Linked DNA regions of Homo sapiens. The protein of the gene in region 2 purifies or fractionates together with the protein of the main gene of each other region. This does not show direct contact. Each region holds a gene or a part of one and is shown on either strand. Other genes may lie near its edges.

What was found.
Region 1: the proteins of CIC (region 2) and FARP1 purify together in Homo sapiens (affinity purification with mass spectrometry, with the first as the bait; one large-scale study listed by BioGRID). This does not show direct contact.
Region 3: the proteins of CIC (region 2) and LRRC47 purify together in Homo sapiens (affinity purification with mass spectrometry, with the first as the bait; one large-scale study listed by BioGRID). This does not show direct contact.
Region 4: the proteins of CIC (region 2) and ZNF592 purify together in Homo sapiens (affinity purification with mass spectrometry, with the first as the bait; one large-scale study listed by BioGRID). This does not show direct contact.

Annotation. Positions count from the first base shown.
Region 1 is NC_000013.11:98,384,094-98,387,593, reverse strand, and holds part of FARP1 (FERM, ARHGEF and pleckstrin domain-containing protein 1), read right to left. Parts: intron 2,865-3,500; coding exon 2,750-2,864; intron 1,928-2,749; coding exon 1,780-1,927; intron 1-1,779. UniProt on the Homo sapiens protein: Functions as a guanine nucleotide exchange factor for RAC1. May play a role in semaphorin signaling.
Region 2 is NC_000019.10:42,267,873-42,272,051, reverse strand, and holds the start of CIC (protein capicua homolog), read right to left. Parts: upstream 2,801-4,179; 5' UTR 2,671-2,800; intron 1,136-2,670; exon of another isoform or gene 694-1,135; intron 279-693; 5' UTR 269-278; coding exon 1-268. UniProt on the Homo sapiens protein: Transcriptional repressor which plays a role in development of the central nervous system (CNS). In concert with ATXN1 and ATXN1L, involved in brain development.
Region 3 is NC_000001.11:3,782,999-3,786,498, forward strand, and holds part of LRRC47 (leucine-rich repeat-containing protein 47), read right to left. Parts: intron 2,206-3,500; coding exon 2,089-2,205; intron 1,114-2,088; coding exon 998-1,113; intron 1-997.
Region 4 is NC_000015.10:84,779,592-84,783,091, reverse strand, and holds part of ZNF592 (zinc finger protein 592), read right to left. Parts: intron 436-3,500; 5' UTR 417-435; coding exon 1-416.

The DNA.
Region 1 (3,500 bases), on a different chromosome or scaffold from region 2:
ATTAGAATTCCTCTGGAGCCCACTGGAACACCAGGCCTGTTCATTTAACGTGGCAAGAATGAAGCAATAGGGCACTGGCAAGAAGGTGGGTTCCGAGACACAGGCTTTGCACGTGACTACATTACCCAGGTATTCCCAATACTTAGGGATTGTGTCAAACACAATCAAAGCACATTAATTCAATTGTGAGACACTTCTTTTCCTTCTTAATACTTTTTAGAAATGGTTCAGGATTGTGATTTGAAATTTAATGATAGTACTCAAAACTCCACTTGGCTTTATTGTTTTTCTTTTTGAGACAGTCTTGCTCTGTCACCCAGGCTGGAGGGCAGTCGTATGATCTTGGCTCACTGCAACCTCTGCTTCCCAAATTCAAGCGATTCTCCTGCCTCAGCCTTCCAAGTAGCTGGGATTACAGGTACACGCCATCATGCCCAGCTAATTTTTGTATTTTTAGTAGAGACGGGGTTTCACCATGTTGACCAGGCTAGTCTCGAACTCCTGACCTCAGGTGATCCACCCGTCTCAGCCTCCCAAAGTGTTGGGATTACAGGTGTGAGCGACCGCGCCCGGCCTATTGTTTCTCTTATCCGATACTCAGAGGCTATGCGTGCAGGTCAAAAACTGTCAAGAAAAAATCCGCCTTGAATACCACACTGCTCTCACAATGTCACTCCCTACTACCTGGCAGGAAGCCAACTTAACTCTTCTTGGGATGTGATTTGTAATAATTATGCTGTCATAAACTTCTGGTGCATGAATAGAGAATCACTGGAACTCTTTTGATAAAAGATAAGGGGGAAATATAAGCAAACCTGGAAGAGCTCAATAAAGGGTTTTAGGTCCTGAACATATTTACAACTTCCTAACTGGGTGAAATCTGATCCTATTTCATGAGAAAGGCGGGTGCTTTCTCTATATCCCTTTGAAACTAAAAGCACAGGTTACCCACTTGTGTTGAAAAGGAATGTACTGAACAGCCTTTTGGGGGTGATGAATACGTTCATTCTGTTGGTTTTGTGGGGAATTTTACAGGATATACATATATATAATAAAAACCTATCAAACTATGCACTTCAAGTGTGTGCACTTTATTGTACGTCAACAATACTTCAATAAGGCTACTAAGAGAGAAGCATTGATCAATGAAACAGTCCAATAGCAGAATGATCAATAGAGCACACATTTTAGAGTGCAGAGAATCATTATGTCTTTAAGTAGAATACAAGTAAGAATTCAAGTGCAGTATGTGTTTTGCTACAAAATTGCAAGAATGTGGCTTTTATGAATTTATAAAACTGCTGTATCTTAAAAGTGTGCCTAACACTCTTTAAGTATATCTGAAGTCCCGACCAAATAAGCTGGCTCAAGCCAAACTGTGTTTGAAAAAAAAAAAAAAAAAAAAAGGATCACATTACAGCAAAGTATCATCTGTAAGTGTGAAAAAGGTGTTTATTCGGGGACCTAAAATCTCGATTCCATTAGACTGTGTTCTAAGTGTAGGTCCATGGAGAGCTACATGTTTCTGTGATGCTACAAAGTCAATAAAACCAAACAAATCTGTAATGTGGATTCCCCAAACAGGGCAAAGGTAAGTGAAATAGAATCTGGGAGCTGAGGGCCTGGGAAACAGAAAGCCTGAGATGAGGTTAATTTTTCTTTGTTCGCCGAAAAATAACCATCAGAGGTCTTAGCCCACTGAATATGAATCAGAGTTGAAGGGCCAGCTCTTCTCTCTCTGTCACCAAGGGAACCAGGCCGTGTTCTCAAGGCTCTCACCTGAAACACTAGAATTCCCGTGTTGGCAACGGCCAGATTGATCTTCGTGCCTTCCCTGTCCTTGGCCGGGTGCAACCGGATTCCATACATCTCTAGCCGACGGGCAATCTCTAGGAGCTGGAAATCTGATTCTGCTGGTGTTTGTCCACTGACAAAACAAAAATTAAACAGAAAGGCCAGGAGATTTGAATTCCCTGTATCTATTAATTTGAGATTAAGAAGCTTCTCCTGGGAAATACAAAGGCATTTCATCACAAACACTGGGGCTACCCGATCAGATGACACCCAATCTCCCATTCACTGTAACCCAAAGTCTAGCAGCTAGGACAAAACCTCCACTGCTCATGGAACATAAAACCCCAAAAGTCTCCAAACTCAGCCAGTTTTTGTTTTTTTTGTTTTTTTTGGAATCTCAAAGAGTTTCCTTTAAGCTCATATAAAAGCAAAACACCACTGGGTTAAAACAAGATTTTAGTTGCTTTCAATAACCTAAACCTGCAAGCAAAGTTCAAGAGAACACTTTTTCACATGGCCGTCAGGCTCCAATGCTTCCTTAAAACAACAACCAAAAGTACCATGAGTCCTTTGAAAATATTAATCCAAACAAAAACAAAAATGCAGATGCTATGAAGGTTCTGGATTTTCACGATACTCTGACCTTGTCCCTAGGTGACCACGTCCCTTTCCCAATTTGTCATTAGCTTGATGACTGGATGGTCCTTTGCTCTTACTTTCTCTTTTGTTCCAAAGCATGGGCATCCTTAAACTCCAGGCTTCAGTGGGTGACCTGTGCTTCTGAGAGCCCAGGATGAATCACCACATCCCAATGAGCCTCTGTGATCTTCTTTCCTCACGCTTTGTGTTGTTCTCCACAATAGTTTGTGTGGGGGGTGGAGGGATGTACACCCATGTAGGTTGGAGGCAGAGAGAACCGGCTCAGAGGGAATATGAAGCCAAGAATGAGACTTACATGTGGTTATGGTGAAATTCCACGATTTTGTCCTCTAGTGCGTCTTGCTGAGGTATGTATTTATTTTTTGCTAAGTGCTCTCTGTCCAAGGCTTCATCAAAATCCCCAATCTCAGCTAAAAAGAAACAGAAAGAAAAACAGGTCACGTAGGAATGACACTTCCCAGTTTGTCAATATTCCCCAGTGAGCCAAACAGAAGCTAGCAGACAACATAAGGTGAGCCCAGTTGGTGGGGAACATCAGAAGGGCCAGATCTCAGAGACGGGATGCCAGGATACATTTATCAATTGTGGTGATGTGAGAAGACAGTTTTCTCCCCTCCTCATCTCTATCAGTCAGAAAGAAGCTTCAAGGTCAGGCACAGTAGCTCATGCCTGTAATCTCAGCACTTTGGGAGTCCAGGACGGGTGGATCACTTGAGGTCAGGAGTTCGAGATCAGCCTGGGCAACATGGCGAAACCTCGTCTCTACCAAAAATACAAAAATTGGCTGGGTACGGTGGCGGGCACCTGTAATCCCAGCGACCTGGGAGGCTGAGGCAGGAGAACTGCTTGAACCCGGGAGGTGGAGGTTGCAGTGAGCCAAGATCGTGCCACTGCACTCTAGCCTGGGCGACAGAGCAAGACTCCATGTTCCCCCCCGCCCCCCTACAAAAAAAAAAGCCTCAGAATCATCCATCTTCAGCCATACCTGCTCCCGGTTTTTCTTTTCTCCCCATCCGCCTGGGGAGGTTCTTGGCAGTAAATTCTAC
Region 2 (4,179 bases):
CTGGGCCTGGAGCCGGGTCGCCAGGGTGCAGCTCCAGTGGAGGACCTTCAGCCCCAGGGCCCCGCTCAGCCTCCTCCTCCTCCCCTTCCTCAGCCTCTTCGGGCCCGGACTGTGGTTGCGGCTGCTGTGCCTCGTCATCCTCCTCCTCTGGCTTGTCACCCTCCCCAGCCCCTCGCCGCCTCAGAGCCTTGGCCCTGGTGGCTGGGGGGGACTTGCTGCCACTGCCAGGACCTGAAAGGCCAGTGCATGCCTTCTTCATTGGCTTCATTTTTGTCCACCTGCAGGGTGGGAGAGCGGAGGATTACGCGGAGCAACTCAGGAACCTCTCCAGAGCCAGTGTACCCTAAGATTTCCCACTTGCTGAGTCTACTGTCTCCATCCCACCATCCCCAAGGCCTCCTCTCTGGCTGCTGTCAACTCATGTGATACCTCAGTCAGCACCAGGCACAGGTGAGCACCTGAGTCCCCTGAGTATACACACTCTGGCTCCTTGGGGAACAGACACCTGCTGGCTCTGCAAAGGACACAGAGCACATGCTCTGAATGCCCCAAGGGGACATCAAAAGCACTAACAGTTCACACCTATGGAGCACTCCCTGTGTCCTGAACTCCATGCTAAGCTTGCCTTTATTAACCTGTTTCATCCTCACAACAGCCCTAAAAGCAGGTGCTACTATCGGCCTCATTTCACACCTGAGGAAACTGAGCCACAAAAAGATGAGACAACTTGTCCAAGATCATCCAGGTGGGAAACAGCAGTGCTAGGGTCTGAACCCAGGCTCTCTGGCTCCAGAGTCCGTGCTCCTGACCATTTCAGTGTGCTGCCTGTCACATGATCCAGAGGGCACATTTACTCGCACTGTCACCATGCAGAGAGTACATGCACTCAGACACACACACACATGCACAAGTACCAAGTCACAAAAAGGGTGGTGACTGGGCTGTGATATGAGCCTTTCTCCACCCCCCCACCCTCCCTCTGCCCCTCTGGGCAGCCTGGCATGGCCAGGCACTGTGGGAAGAAGTGGGCAGCTGAGAGTCCCGAGGGACGGCTGCCCACTCTGCTCTGCACCCTAGGGCTGCCAGGTACAGCCATCTCCCCAGATCCTGGCAGGGAGCAGGCAGGGGCATGTCTGGGGCAAGAGCTCATACCCAGCACTGCCACGGGGCCGTGCATGAGCACACGCACGCGCACAAACACACACACACGCACAGAAGCACGCACACGTCATCACACAGTGGGACACAGAGCTACACCCCAGGGTTTCTCTGTCCCACTGGATGGGAGCCTGCTCCTCCCCCCACAGCACCCAGCGTGATACCCGCAAGCCCAGCCCCCCTCTTCTTGCCTGCATGCATCCCCGCCCTGGCTGGGCTGGCTCTGGCAGGGTGGCTGAGTCGGCTAGCCCCCCGCAGGCCCCCAAATATGCCCTCCAACTCCAAGTGGGGATAGGTGGGATAAGGTCAAAGAAAGCAGGACAAGCCCAACAGGCCAACCTCACCCACTTCCTGAACAGTCATTACTGCCCGCCCCCTTTCGAGCTGCCCTGAGAAAAGAAAAGGGGAAAAAACTTTACTCTGAAGTGACTAAGAGAACCTGAGAGGCCAAAACAGAGGCCTCTAGGAGGGTTGGGGGACCCAGAACCATAAGCCAAACACAATGAGAGGCAACCCCGACTCAGTCTTCCAGCTACTGGGGGACCCTTGACCTCATGCTCTCTCACTAGGGGCCTGCTCCTCCTGTGGACCCTGGAGTCCCAGGCCTGCCCTTTCTTGGGCCAATCCTGGGGTCCTCACAGGCAGAGCCTGGAGGGCGTCCCGGGGCTGGCACCCAAATGCCCAGAAGTTGGGCAGCCATCACCACCTAATACCCGCTGACCCACTAGACTACCATGTTGGGGACTGAGATCTGGCTCCAGTTTTTTCCAAGCACAAACCTTTGCATACCCCACCCAGGGCCTACAACTATGCCGCCTGGACCCCTAGACCTTGCTGCCTGGCCCAGCCTCTCTTCGCCCCAGAGCTGCTTTCTTTCCCCTAGGGCCTACTCTCTTCCTGTCCACCCTGTCTGAATAACTCCCACCCAAGCCCCGGGGGCCCTCACCTTCCTCAGATCTGAGTAGTAACTCCCGGAGCCCAGGCCAGCCCAGGCCCTGGCTCTTTGGGGTCTCATACCCTCTGTTCCCATTAGCCCTCCTGGCACCAGCTTCTCTGACACTCTCTCTCTCATCCTGTCACTACCTCTATCTCTACCTCTCGGTTAAAATGCCCTAGGCCCCCTCCTGTCACCCCCTCCTTGTCACCCCCATTTATCTCTGTCACCTATTCCTCCCAGTCACTGTCCTGTCAGCCATCTCCGGACCTGTCACCTTCTCTCCCCATCACCTCTCCTTGTCACACTCTCCAACTCTGTCCCCTCCCTCTCCCTGTCACCCTGATCTAGTCCTGTCACCCCTCCATTCCTGTTACCCTTCTTTGCCCACCACCCCCTCCCCCAGTTACCCTTTTTCTGTCAAACCCCCACCACTTCCTCCACTCCCTCCTCCCTTCCCACCATTCCGCCCACCCCTTTCCCCCTGTACCCCCTCCCCGTCCCTGCCACCTGTCCCCTCTCGGCCCCCAGCCCCCCGGACCCCCCTTTCCTGTGTCAGCCCTGGCCCCGCCCCTCACCTTGGGCTCGGCGGGGTTTCGGGGCGGGGGGCCGTGGCCCCGGCTCGGTCCGGTCCGGTCCCTCCCCGCCCCCCCTCCGGCTCTCCCTCTCGATTCTCCCTTTTTTTTTTACTCCAACACACAAAATGGTGAATGGACCTGCAACAGCTGGAGCAGCCAGCCAATCAGCGATCACAACCCCACTGACCGGCGCCAGCCTAGACCAATAGATATCCGCAGACTGGTCGGCTCCGCCTCTCGACGACGAGCGACGCTCGCGGCGACCAATTGGGCCCATCGGGCAGCGCTAGGGGGCGGGGCCAAAGTCCAAGACCGGCCTCCCTCCGGGACCGACACCAACCTGAGCCTACGACTGCCTGATCTGCCTAGGGCCCTACCCTACAACAAGTGAAGGACACCAGTCGTGTCCAATTGCAGGCCGTCTTAGTTCCAAATGACAAATACAGTACCCAGTCGCCATGCAGCCTAGGCCGGAACCCAGCCTCTGTGAGGGACAGTAGCCAATGAAATGAAAGGAGGAGGGGCTAAGGGACGGGTTGTCCAATGAACGGAGGTAGAAGGCGTGGCCCGAACGTTTGTTGACCGGCTAGTCGCAGTTCCTGCTGGGAACCGTAGTCTTCTCACGTCTTCGGCCCATAGCCGACAGTACAAGGCAGACTACAACTCCCATGTGACAGAGTGCTTGGAGCACCAAAGAAACCCGGCGAGGAGAAAAAGTCGAAAAGGGCAGTTCGTCGTGAGTCTCACTGGACGCCAGGAGTATCTTAGACCCAGGGCCCCGACTCACCCGTATTCCTGGCTCTGGCGTCGCCGGTGGCTCCTCTCAGTGGCAGCGGTAGCGGCACGAGGGGGAGGTGCAAGGAGCAGCCAACCGCCACCCGCGAGCCCCGCAGCCAATCAGCAGCGGCCGGGGCGGTGCAATGACCTCACCGGTTCTACTCTCTTACCCCTCCCCCACGTGGTTGTTGCTGCCGGTAGACGGAGTAGGGAAGTTTGGATTGGGGGAGGGGAGGAGAACCAGTGATGTCACCTTTCCCCTTGTTGATTGGCTGCCGGGTGGCCGGGACTACGACCAATTGACGGTCTCGAAAAGTCTGGCGCGGCCCCGCGGAAAGCCCTGTTGCCACCGGGAGGGGAGAGAACGCGCGCTTGTGGGGTGTCGCGCGCTGCAGTATAGGCAACGCGCGCGGCCTGGGGCCCGGGGGACAGGTCACCTCCTCCAAGAGTTTGACATTTAGGACAGCGCAGTTTGACAGCCCACTAGGCATTGGGGCAGGGGGCCGAGATGACGAAATGCAGCGCTTCTTGGGGCTTCGCACTGCATTACGTGGAGAGCTACACTTTGTGGGTGTACGCCCCTGACAGAGGCAGATTTTTAAAGATCCCAGGGGTAGGAGGGTATCACACTGGAGTGGAGGAGGACAGGGAGATGCCCTGTTTGTAGTAGATGCCTGCTGCCCAGATACGGGTTTACAACCAGATGGTGAACCTGTCTGCAATGCATCTATG
Region 3 (3,500 bases), on a different chromosome or scaffold from region 2:
CCCAGGTCAGAAACAGAGCAGGACAAAAAGCTCCGGTGCTGATCAGTAGTGGGACTGCGCCTATGATTAGCCACCTCACTCCAGCCTGGGCAACATGGCGCGACCACATCTTAAAAAAAAAAAAAAAGAAAAAAGGCACAGCTGGGCGTGGTGGCTCACGCCTGTAATCCTAGCAGTTTGGGAGGCTGAGGCAGGCAGACTGCTTGAAGTCAGGAGTTCAGGACCAGCCTGGCTAACATGGCGAAACCCCGTCTCTACTAAAAACACAAATATTAGCCAGGCATGGTGGCAGGCGCCTGTAATCCCAGCTACTCGGGAGGCTGAGGCGGCAGAATCGCTTGAACCTAGGAGGTGGAGGTTGCAGTGAGCCAAGATCGTGCCATTGCACTCCAGCCTGGGCGACAAGAGTGAGACCCCATCTCAAAAAAAAAAAAAAAAGCACACACCTGAAAACATACCTAAAGGGTAAAATGGACGACTCAAAAAGTTCTTTACACAAATTAAGTGTAATATCAAGGGCCCAAGCATAACAAGCTTCAAAGAACAAAGTATTCTGAAGCCTGTGTTTACAGAAATCACTGGGCTAGTTACGGATGATCATCTTGCTTAGAGCAGCACCAAGGACCCTGACTTGGATGATACCCAACAGCGCACGGTATGGATAAAATGCTGTGGGTTGGGCTGGCATTTATGTCTGTTTCCTAATGGCTAGTTTATATCCTGTCCTGTCCCATCCTGAGGGCCACCCGCCCCCTGTGGAATGGCCAATACCTCCGCTCCTAACACCTTCCACTTCCCTCACGTCAGGGCCATCTAGATGACAGACTGGTTCCACAACGTCTCCTTTGGAAAGAGAATGCTTTCTTTGTACCCTGTTAAGAAGCTTCTGGGTTCTGGTAGCATTAGGCGGTTCCTGAGGAGCACAGACTAACTCAGCTGAGGCCAGCATGCGGCACTCCCCCGGGCCCGGCCCCACCCCACCAGGCACGCTGCCCACCTGTGCAGGCCCGACACACTCTGCCGCTTCTTCTGCTTCCTCTGCTCCTCGGCCTCCAGCTGCAGCTGCCGCACCAGCTCCTTGGCCTTGGCTTCTTTCCGCCCCAAGGGGACAATCTATCGGGCAGAAACCCACAAACTCCACTAGGGTCACAGCCACAGAACTCGCCCATCGTGTCGATTACGGCCTTAAGCCTCAATGAGCCCTCCCGACTCCCGCCCTCATTCATCTCTACAGCAGGCAGGGAGCATCCCACGGGACCACGCAGCAAGAAGCTGCATGTGGGCTGCCACTGCAGCGTCCCGGGGAGACCTGACGCCCAAACACACCGATCCTACTGAGGCAGGGCTTAACCTTAAAGCCAGCTCATGCACAACTGTTTCCAGAGGTCTGCCATCCTCAGAAGGCCAAAAGAGGAGAGAAAGGCTGAGCAGCCGGGACCTCGTGCACTCCACAGATTCAACAGCCCAGGACAGCACGACACAGCAACTCACCCTACTGCCAACCCCACGCAAACGGTTTTACTATCGGGACAGAGACCAAAATTTCTGATTAAAAGGTAGTGAGCGAGTGAAGGAAACCATTTTCCCAACGACTGCTCATCCGCCGAGTCCTCTCACAGCTGTGCACCGCTTCGAGTAACCGCAAACGCGGTCTGTTTCATTATTTCATGTCTTTGCAAGAACAGCATCGGATCCTACTCTAAAGAAAATGTTCAGGCCGGGTGCGGTGGCTTACGCCTGTAATCCCAGCACTTTGGGAGGCCAAGTTGGGCGGATCACCTGAGGCCTGGAGTTTGAGACCAGCCTGACCAACATGGAGAAACCTCGTCTCTACTAAAAATACAAAATTAGCTGGGCGTGGTGGCACATGCCTGTAAACTCAGCTATTCGGGAGGCTGAAGCAGGAGAATCGCTTCAACCCAGGAGGCAGAGGCTGCAGTGAGCCGAGATTGTGCCACTGCACTCCAGCCTGGGCAACAATGGAACTCCATCTCCAAAAAAAAAAAAAGTTCGGGCTGCAGTAGCAGCATGGCGTCTTTCGACACCAAGGAGACTCTTCAGCAGACCCTGCAAAGGAGGCTGCAGCACCTTGAGGTCCTGTGGGGGCCGGGCGCAGTACAGCAGGGGCCCTTTGACGGCACGGAGCTCGTGGGTGGCAAGGGTGGCAGCCGTCCTCTTCTCACAGAGATCTTCGTGGAGCTTGGTCTGTAACACAGAAGCAGTGATGAGCAAGGTCTCTTGTGCCCTGAAGCCCAGCGAGGTGTCCACACTTCACCCTTGGCTGGGCTGTGTGCCAGGAAACCCTCCCGGTCCAAGGTCTTCACAACCACGCCACGCCCCTTTCCGAGACAGGGCTCCCCTCCAACTCCTCTCCACCCGGCCAGCCAGGCACTCACTTTGTGGAATCACCATCAGGAAAACTATCTTAACCTATCAATCAGCAGACTTTCTTCCTTCTCTAATTCTGACATAATATTTGAGATTTCAAAGAACCCATCTTGAACTAAAATGTAAATAAAGGCTGAGCTTTAAGTTGTAAAGCCCTGGCTGTGATGCCTGTTCCCTTCCTCCCCAAGCTGCAGGCAGGACTCTCACGACAGTCACTCTCGGCCCGCCATGCTCTGTCGCTGCCACTGCGGGGCGCACGAGACTTTCCCCTGGGCACAGAGGTGCTTTATATTTTAAAAGTTGGTCAGGTGTCACAGAAAAGCAACTGGGAAGTTAGTCTTGCCAAAACCTAAACAATTCACAGAAGAATGTGCTGGCAAGAGTTGATGACTTTAATACTGTCTTACATAAAACAAAATGTGTGATTTACTGCAGAAGTCAGAAAACCCACCAAAATATCAAAAAATCAAGGAACCCTGATTTTCCTTTTTTTTTTTTTTTGAGATGGAGTCTTGCTGTGTCACCCAGGCTGGAATGCGGTGGTGCAATCTTGGCTCACTGCAACCTCCACCTCCCAGGTTCAAGTGATTCTCCTGCCTCGGCCTCCCCAGTAGCTGGGATTAAAGGTGCTCACCACCACGCCTGGCTAATTTTTGTGTTTTCGGTAGAGATGGGGTTTCGTCATGTTGTCCAGGCTGGTCTCAAACTCCTGACCTCAGGTGATGCACCCACCTCGGCCTCCTGAAGTGCTGGGATTACAGGCGTGAGCCACCGCACCAGCTGGAACCCTGATTTTCAACTGCAATAAAGCTATCCAGAAATTAGGATAGGCCAGGTGTGGTGGCTGACACCCGTAATCCCCACACTTTGGGAGGCCAAGGCGGGTGGACTGCTTGAGGTCAGGAGTTCAAGACCAACCTGGCCAACATGGTGAAACCTCATCTCTTTTAAAAATACAAAAAAATTAGCCAGACATGATGGTGAGCACCTGTAATGCCAGCTACTCAGCAGGCTGAGGCAGGAGAATCACTTGAACCCAGGAGGCGGACGCTACAGTGAGATTAGACTGCGCCACCGTACTCCAGCCTGGGAGACAAAGCGAGACTCCTTAA
Region 4 (3,500 bases), on a different chromosome or scaffold from region 2:
TTGAAGGTGGGTAATGGCTCTGACTTGGGAGGCTCCAGTTTGCCAGGGAAACTCCTGGCACTGTCTCCATTCATAAAAGTAGAATCAAATTTCCCACAGTTGTGGGGATCTGGAGGCAGATCTGAGCCCCGGAATCCATTGTGTAGGAGACTGGGAGTAATGTGGTCTTTCTCCGCTTCAAATGACTCCTGGCGGCTGGTGTTCTTGACAATGACACTCACGGCCGGCACATCGGGGGCTGATCCTGAGTGAGACAAGGACACACTTTCATCCATACATATGCCTGGAGGTTTGAGGGGACTCTCATTCTCCTCACTGGGTGTCTGGATGGCCTCCTTGGCATCAAGGCTGGTGGGGTCTGGGATGTCAAAGGCAGCCAGAAGGTCATCAAAATCTGGGGTTTTCATATCCCCCATGGCTGGATGCTGGCAAGGGCTGTAACAGAAACAGAAAACAGAATCAGTGACCACCAGGGTCCCACTGGACCATCTTCACTACACACCCATCAAACTAATGCACACACAGCCAGCACACCCATGCAGAACCCCACATACTATGACAGGAAGCCACACACCTCAGTTTTACCCCAACAGGTTTCTAAAATGCTGGAGAGGTGGGGGCAGAGATGGAAAGAGTAGTGAAATGTAGCAACAAGCCTGCCTGGATGATCTTAAACCTCAGTACCTGGAAATTGGTGGCTGGTTATTACAAAGCCACAGAGAGTATACTCCTACCATACTCCCTCAGCTTCTCAGGGAATATCATCCCTCCACGATCATGTGCACTAGCAAAAAGCCACTTAGCACTTCCAGCCTTTAGAAAACTACTGATTAATACATGAAACCTGGCTATAACTTCTGCTAATTTACTCTTAGTAATTACTCACTAACTTTATATAACTTTGGGGTTTCTTTCTGCATAAATTCAATCAAATCCAAAATGATTTGCTATTTGTGTTGTCTCATGAATAAACTCTAGAAAATTATATCATCCCTAGGTATTTTTTCTCTGTTCAGCAGACACACTTGATTCCTTTTCACCCTAAAACTGTTATCAGTTGGTGAATGCTCCTCCATTAAACCTGAGGAACAGGGTGACTTGCAAAGTACCAACAGTTATCAAATTGGCCAAGTGACAGTTTGGGGGAAGCCTAAATTCTATTTTGACTAATATACAAAGAATAGGATAATAATTCTATTTTAAATTAATATACTTGTCTCCTTCATGATCTGGGAAAGCAGAGCTACAGAACTACTGCAACAGAGGAAACACAAGGCCCTAGAGAGACCTTCCATTAGGAAATTCTTATAAAACTCACACTTCAGATGAAACATGAAACTGGCTGGCTCAAACCTGCTGGAGGGAGAAGAAAAACCTCACCATCTCCCTTTAAGTCCTGCATCTGCTTCAGCATTCCAGGGCCTTTACTGGCTTAAGTGTTTCTTACGTCACATTTATGTTGAAAACCTTTCTGGATGCAGATTGGCACAATTCTTTCAGAAAGCAGTATGGTAGCTTCATAGAACCAGAAAAGTGGCAAACTTTAGGTCCAGGAACCCCACTTCCAGAAATTTATCCTAAGAACAAAAATTCTCAAAAACTACATGCAAAAGTATATGTTACAGCATTATTTAAAAAGCACAAAAGGGAGACATACACACAAAAATAATTTAAATGTCTAAGACCAAAAAAAAAAAAAAATACTTGATAGACTATAACGCAGTCATTAAAAATTCTCATTAAGGGCCCGTCGCAGTGGCTCTTGCCTATAATCCCAGCACTTTGGAAGGCCAAGGTGAGTGGATAGCTTGAGGTCAGGAGTTCAAGACCAGCCTGGCCAACATGATGAAACCCCATCTCTACTAAAAATACAAAAATCAGCCAGGCGTGGTGGTGGGCGCCTTAATCCCAGCTACTCCGGAGGCTGAGGCAGGAGAATCACTTGATCCCAGGAGGTGGAGGTTGCCATGAGTAGAGATCGCACCACTGCCCCCAGCCTGGGCGACAGAGTGAGCAACTCCATCTCAAAATAAATAAATAAATAAATAAATAATAAAAATTCTCATTATGAAATCTATATAGCAACAAGGAAAATTATTTATAATGTCAAGTTTAAAAAGACTAATACAAAAATGTTGTCAGACTATAACAATGTAAAACTACGCGTGCATTTGAGCCAAGATTTTTTAAAAAATGAAAATGATTACGCAGACTAGTGGAATTACTGTTGGGTTATTTTTTCAAAACTTTTTTAGGGGGCTGATAGATTGCTTTTATAATTTTTAAAGGAAAAATAACAACAACAACAACAACAACAACAAAACCCACTCAGAACCACAAGGCAGCAGGTGGCATAGCAGAGGTATATCTCTTACCACCCCGTGGGATCAACAGGTTTCCAGGTTTGGTTTCTTGCCCCACTCCCAACTCCCAGCAAAACACATCTGCCTGCATATGAGTTCTCACAGAAAATGAAAACTCACTCCCTCCCATTGGGAAGATATCTAATTATGGTAATAATAAAGTACAATACCAATTACCTAAACATGGGTTGGCAGAATACCCCACTGGAATGAGATACAAAGTTTTGAACAGAACGAATGTTTGTCTCTTGGAACAGGAGGTGTTGGAACCCATAAACAAGGGGAACATACTGGATGTCACTGAAAACAGTGGGCACTCAATACCAAGTGACCTACTAGGCAGGGTGATCATAACTATAAGGAAACTCCTGCATGATATTTGCTTTATAAGCTTCTTTTTAATTTCTTTTTTGTTCTTTCTTTCTTCTAAATGTCTAGGAAAGGCCAAGCGCAGTGGCTCACTCCTGTAATCCCAGCACTTTGGGAGGCTGAGGTAGGTGGATCACCTGAGGTCAGGAGTTTGAGACCAGCCTGGCCAACATAGTGAAATCTCATCTCTACTAAAAATACAAAAATTAGTTGGGTGTGGTGGCACACGCCTGTAGTACCATCTACTTGGGAGGCTGAAGCAGGAGAATCACTTGAACCCAGGAGGAGGAGGTTGCAGTGAGTCGAGATCTTGCCACTGCACTCCAGCCTGGGCAATAGACCAAGACTCCAACTCAAAAAAAAAAAAAAACAAAACTGTCTAGGAAAAAAAGATTGAGGGGAAAGGGCAGAATAGATTTTCCAGCTCTCATTAAGGAGCTGGAAAAAGCATGTGGGAGAAGAGGAGGAGAAGTTGATTGTGTGTCTAAGGATTAGCTGGGAGCCTGCTATTATCTAATATGAAGTTGCAGAGGCTTGAAGCAGAGAAAGATTAGATCAGAAGTAAAGCTCTCCTCATAGAGAAATCTCAGGGATTGACTGAGAATGGTCAGAAGTAAAGTAAGTATCTTTTGCTGGAAAATCAGAGCTAGTAAATAGTGTGAGAGCTCAATATTAGCAGCAGAAAAAAAAACTTTTATAGAGATTTTAGGTCAGGCACAGTAGCTCACACCTGTAATCTTAGCACTTTGGGAGGCCAAGGGAGGAGGA